2 separate regions of the Homo sapiens genome follow, and region 2 is linked to region 1. The links come from fine-mapping of genetic effects on gene expression. Tissue or cell type: skeletal muscle. Region 1 holds a variant in brackets; the other region holds the start of a gene. All regions are shown on one strand. Distances are between the middles of the regions.

Evidence for each region. PIP is the estimated chance that this variant, and not a neighbour inherited with it, causes the effect.
Region 2: FOXO6 starts here. The variant in region 1 is fine-mapped to the expression of FOXO6 in skeletal muscle (GTEx, PIP 0.95).

Annotation. Positions count from the first base shown.
Region 1 is chr1:41,395,240-41,397,920 of GRCh38, forward strand. No RefSeq gene overlaps it. Among named protein-coding and RNA genes, the nearest start is that of FOXO6-AS1, 21 kb to the left of the region's middle. RefSeq lists an enhancer at 1-263. The variant G/A (reference allele first, on the strand shown) is at 1,382.
Region 2 is chr1:41,360,392-41,363,072 of GRCh38, forward strand. It overlaps FOXO6 (forkhead box O6), which reads left to right and starts at 1,043. Exons shown (of 3, transcript NM_001291281.3): 1 at 1,043-1,953. The coding sequence starts at 1,540. RefSeq lists enhancers at 449-518, 586-880 and silencers at 679-1,338, 1,539-1,758.

The DNA of each region.
Region 1 (2,681 bases):
CAGCTAAGTGGAGGGGCCTGGGGCCTGCAGAGGGGTGATGGAGTGAGAGAAAGAGAAAGGGGAGCTTCATCCCAGAGCCTCCTCTGTCTCTTCTTCCCTCTGCCGTCTCTCAGCCCTCCCCGCTCCTCACTCCCAGTCTTGTCAGGGGAGGATGGGGTGCCAGGGGCTCCTGTCAGTCTGGAGCTGGAGAGCTCCCCGGGCTTCATTAACATGCAAATTAGCAAGTTCTGACTGGCTGTGGCAGCGACAGGCAGCCACCCCTCCCAGCCCCAGGAGTGTGTGTGTGTGTGTGTGTGTGTGTGTGTCTCCTCTGCGGCAGGGCTGGATGGAAGTGGGGGAGCAGCTCTCATTGCCCTGGTCTCCACAGACAGCAGTGCATGTGTGTCTAACATACATACACACACTTATACACTCATACCTACAGAAAGACACATAATACACAGCTACATACAGCCACACATCACACAGTCTCAGGGACATTCATGGACACACAGTTACGCGTATAGCGTCACACACACAACTTCACACACAGTGGTCACACCCTAAACTGTCTCAAATAGGCATACCCTTTCCAAACACACTATTTTTCACACCCTCACCACAACCCTGCCGAGGAACAAACCCACAAACACACCACCCCCTACACAGCCACACACATACACACATAATCTCAGTTACACAAAATCACACACAGGCACAGTCCAGGGAGAGAGCGGGGCTGAGGCTCCACACTCAGCCTGGGAGAGCAACTGCCTCCACCTGGACGCCCTCCATGCCCACCTCACCCACCTTCCCTCCACCTGAACTGGCCAAGATCAGCCTGTGTCTCCCCCGGTCAGCTCTCAAGGTTGAATACTGTCTGGCCCCTCTGCCTGGATGCACCCTGAACTCCCTCACCCGGTCCACTTGCACTGTCTTCCAGCCATCACCTCTCCTGGCTGCCTGCCCTCACCCTCTATCCGTGGGGCTGGGCCCCTGCTCCGGCCGCCCAGGCTTCCCTTGAGAGTGGCCCTGGTCACGCTGCATTGAAATTGCCCGTTGATGTGTCTGCCTCCATCAGGATGGGAGCTCCAGGAGGACAGGACCGGCGTCAGTCAGTCTTGTTTATGGCTCTGTCCCAGCGCTCAGCTCACTCTGACCTGTCCGTGCTATTTCCGCAGCAGATGGAGCGAGGGCCAGCAGTGTTAACAACGGGAATGGCTAAGATTTTTACATGGCATTCGCTCTGTGCTGGGCCATATACACAACAGCCCTACGAGAGAGTTTCTACTATTCACCACCCCATTGTCACAGTCAAGGAAACTAAGGCACAGAGGGCTTAAGGTGCCTGAGCAAGATCACCCAGCCAGAACTGCGGTCTGAACTCTGGTTCCCCAGCTCA[G/A]AATAGCCCTGTACATGCTCTTCCCAGGACTCTAGGCAGAGATGTGGGGTGTTGAGGGCGGTCACAGGGGGCCAGAAACATTCCTTGGCGAGGGGAAGAGCAGCAGGAGGAGATTTCAGTTCCCAGGAATAGACGGAGGACACTAGATCTCTGAGAGGAAGGTCTGTGGTCACTCACCACCTGCACGGAGGCCCTGGGCCATGGGATCCTGGGACATCAGGGTTGGGGAGATCGAGCAGGACATCCATTTTAGAGAGGGGTTGACTGACGCCAGAGAGGTCCTAAATCACACTTGCCTTCCATTTCTCGAATATCTGTAAAGTGTGCCAAGCACACTTGTTTATCTACTTTAACCCTTGAGACAGCCCAGTGAGGTTGGCACAATAGTTAGCTCCATTTTACAGGTCAGAAAAGTGAGGCTCCATGTATCTCTATATGCCCAAGGTTGGTGTGGATATCTGTGGTTTTGTCTACAAGGAATCATTTTCAACCCATGTTAACCCTGATTTTAGAATGGGAGCTGCCATCGTTTACAGAGCCTACCCTCCTGGGCAATGTTGATTGGCTCAGTGAAGGACACGTGATTCACACTGGGCCAATCAGAAGCCCTGGCTTGAGTTTTTTTTATTTTATTTTATTTTATTTTATTTTATTTTATTTTATTTTATTTTATTTAGACAGAATCTCACTAGGTTGCCCAGGCTGGAGTGCAGTGGTGCCTTCTCAGCTCACTGCAAGCTCCGCCTCCCGGGTTCAAGTAATTCTCCCACCTCAGCCTCCGGAGTAGCTGTGATTACAGGCATGTGCCACCATGCCTAATTTTTGTAATTTTAGTAGAGACGGGGTTTTTCCATGTTGGCCAGGCTGGTCTCCAACTTCTGTGATCCGCCCGCCTCAGTCTCCCGAAGCATTGGGATTGCAGGCGTGAACCACCGCGCTCGGTCCTGGCTTGAGTTTTGAATTTAGGGTCAAGGTGAGCCTCTGGAGTTTTCAGCAGGCTGGATACTCCTCTGCAGTAGGAAAAGAGAAAGGCAAACATGCTGAGAACAAGGGAGGGAGGTCCAGCTATCCCCTGCCTGTACTGGAGCACCTTAGGGTGCTTCAGCACATGTTTTGTTGACTGGGCAGTCTCCCAACTAGCTCCACCTTCCCACATCTCTCCCCCACCCTTCCTTGTCATCTCTCTGCTTGTCTAGGGCCCCACACTTACACAGGGGGCTCACAACAAGTGTACTAGGGTGCTGAAGAGGGGCAGGAGGGGGCTCTGCCCATTGGATAATCCCGGTGGGCACTGAGCCAG
Region 2 (2,681 bases), 35 kb before region 1:
GAGCTCATGTGATGATCTGATTAGCATCTGACTCCTGACTAGTCTATGCAGTAGGGGACCTCATTTGTTTCAGTTGCTGCTCTCACTGTAGAGCCCTGGACAGTGCCTGGTGCGTCAGAGGTGCTCAATAAATATCCAGGAACTGATTGAGAAGCATCTCCCCAAACACTGTGAACTTTAGACAAGTGCTTGTTCCAACAACCGCAGTAAGAACCTCCCACAGACTCTAAAACAATGGTTTGCAAGGTGTGGTCTCTCGTGCATCACCTGGGAGCTGGTTAGAAATGCAAAGTCTGGGGCCCCAACCCAGACCTGCCGAATCAGAAACTCTGGAGTTGGGGTCCAGCAATGTTAACAAGCTCTAGGGGATGATTCTGCTCTGCGTCAAACTTTGAGAACTGGAGCTCTAAAACTATGACCACAGGCACCATGAAGAACATGTTTGCGGATGGAGGAGCGAGAATTGTGGCAAAGCCTAGCCTAGAACCCAGGTATTCTTGACCCATTCTTTTTCCCCAGCTCAGTCCAGGGCACAAAGAAGAGCAGAGTTCGATCATCCTCCCTGTCAGAGTCCTGGAACGGAGACTTGGGAACGTCAGGAGTCTACAAACAGAGGGCGGGGCAGTCCTCTCCGGAGTAGAAGGCGGGGCCAGTGCCCTGAGCCCCGCCCCATCCCGTTGCCCCGGGAAACCCCGGGTTGTAACAATAACCGGTGACGCGCTTCTGGGAGGGATCCTGTCGAGCCCATGGGCAGGACAGTCCAGCCGCGGACCAATGGGAGTGTTAGGGCTCCGCCCCCTAGCCCCCCCGCCTCCGCGCCGAGCAGGGGGCGGGGTCGCGCCAGCCGCTCCGCCCCTGCTCCGTAGGCGGCGCTGTTGCTTGCAGGGGCTGCGGCGGGGTCGCCCCGAGCTGGGAGCTCAGCGCCCGGTCTCCCAGCCCGCGGGCGGGGCACCTGGGCTGGCTGAGGATTCCGCGGCCGCAGGCGAAACGCCCCGCCCCCTCCCGCGTCGGGCCCGCCCCCTCCCCGTCCCCCGCCCATCCCGAGGTGCAGCCGGCGCTGAGCGCGGCAGGCGCGGGAGCTGGCGCTGGAGCCGGAGCGGCGGCGGCGGCAGCATTCACCGGGCGGCGGCGGCGCGGGCTCCGGCACCGGCTCGGGCTCCGGCATGGTGCAATCCGGCCTCGTCCCGGGAGAGCAGGGCCCGTGCGCAGGGCCGGCGCCCGGGGAGCGGCGGCAGCGGCGGTGGCGGTGGTGGCTGCAGGCGCAGGCAGGCGGCAGGTGCTAGAAGCGGGGCTGGGCGAGGTGTGTGCCCGCTGGGCTCCCGGGCCGCCGCCCCCTCACTGCCCAGGTCTTTCCCTCCCTTCGTGCTCCCCAGCGCGTCCAGCCCCCTGCCTCCGCGCCTCGGCCCATGGCGCCCCGCGGCTGAGACAGCGCCGCCAGGGACCCCTCCCGCGGGCCTCCCCGGGGCGTGCAGATCCCGGAGCCGCCCGCCCACCCTCCGCGAAGCCTCCCTCCCCTCCTCGCCCGAGCCGGGCGGGACCATGGCTGCGAAGCTGCGAGCGCATCAGGTGGACGTGGACCCGGACTTCGCGCCGCAGAGCCGGCCGCGCTCGTGTACCTGGCCCCTGCCGCAGCCTGACTTGGCCGGCGACGAGGACGGAGCGCTGGGCGCAGGGGTGGCCGAGGGCGCCGAGGACTGCGGGCCGGAGCGCCGGGCTACGGCCCCGGCGATGGCCCCAGCGCCGCCCCTGGGCGCGGAGGTCGGACCGCTGCGGAAAGCGAAGAGCTCTCGGCGGAACGCGTGGGGGAACCTGTCCTACGCCGACCTCATCACCAAAGCCATCGAGAGCGCCCCGGACAAGCGGCTCACGCTCTCGCAGATCTACGACTGGATGGTCCGTTACGTGCCCTACTTCAAGGATAAAGGCGACAGCAACAGCTCGGCCGGCTGGAAGGTGGGGGCGTCCGGCTGGGGAGGGGGCTGGGGACGCCGACTGGGGCTTCCAGGGGCTGCTAGGTGTGTTGGGCTCCAGGAGGGCCGTCAGAAGGAGGGCTTTTTGGCACCCCCCGGGGTCACAGAGTGTGCGCCCAGGGCGTGGGGCCGGCCAGCGGACGGGCGGGGGCGTACTGGGAGCAGCTGTGTGCGTGCTCCCTTGCGGGGAGGGATGCGGGGTGGGAGGTCTGGTAGGGTGACAAGGGACTGCCGCTTTGAGGCGTCCCCGAGGCACGTCCCCACCCTGTCCTTGGGGGCATAGCAGAGGAACCCATTCCCAGGCCGCGGACATTGGGGAGCCTCCCCCTCCTCCCCCAAGTCTGCTTTGTGTGACTCTTGTTTTACCCTTTCCACCAGGGCACCCTTCTTAGAGCGCTGGAATAATGACTTGGGGCCAATGCCGGCTTTCCCTCCCAAATCTCTATCATTGCGCTTCCTGGAGCTGTCCCCAGGGTGAGGAGTGTGACCATGGGCCCACAGTTCTTCTTGTGGTGCCAGAGTTCACCCTAGGGCACCAACCAGCCTGGAGTGGGGAACTCGGCAGGTGACCTGAGATCTGAGTTCTCCATGGGGTGGCTGCTGCCCCCCTTACCTAGATCAGGATGGGGGTCACTGGTGATGGCCCCTGCTGGTGTGAGGACAGGGTGTTGAGAGCTGGGGATCTGTCCATACCCACCCAGGATGCTTTTT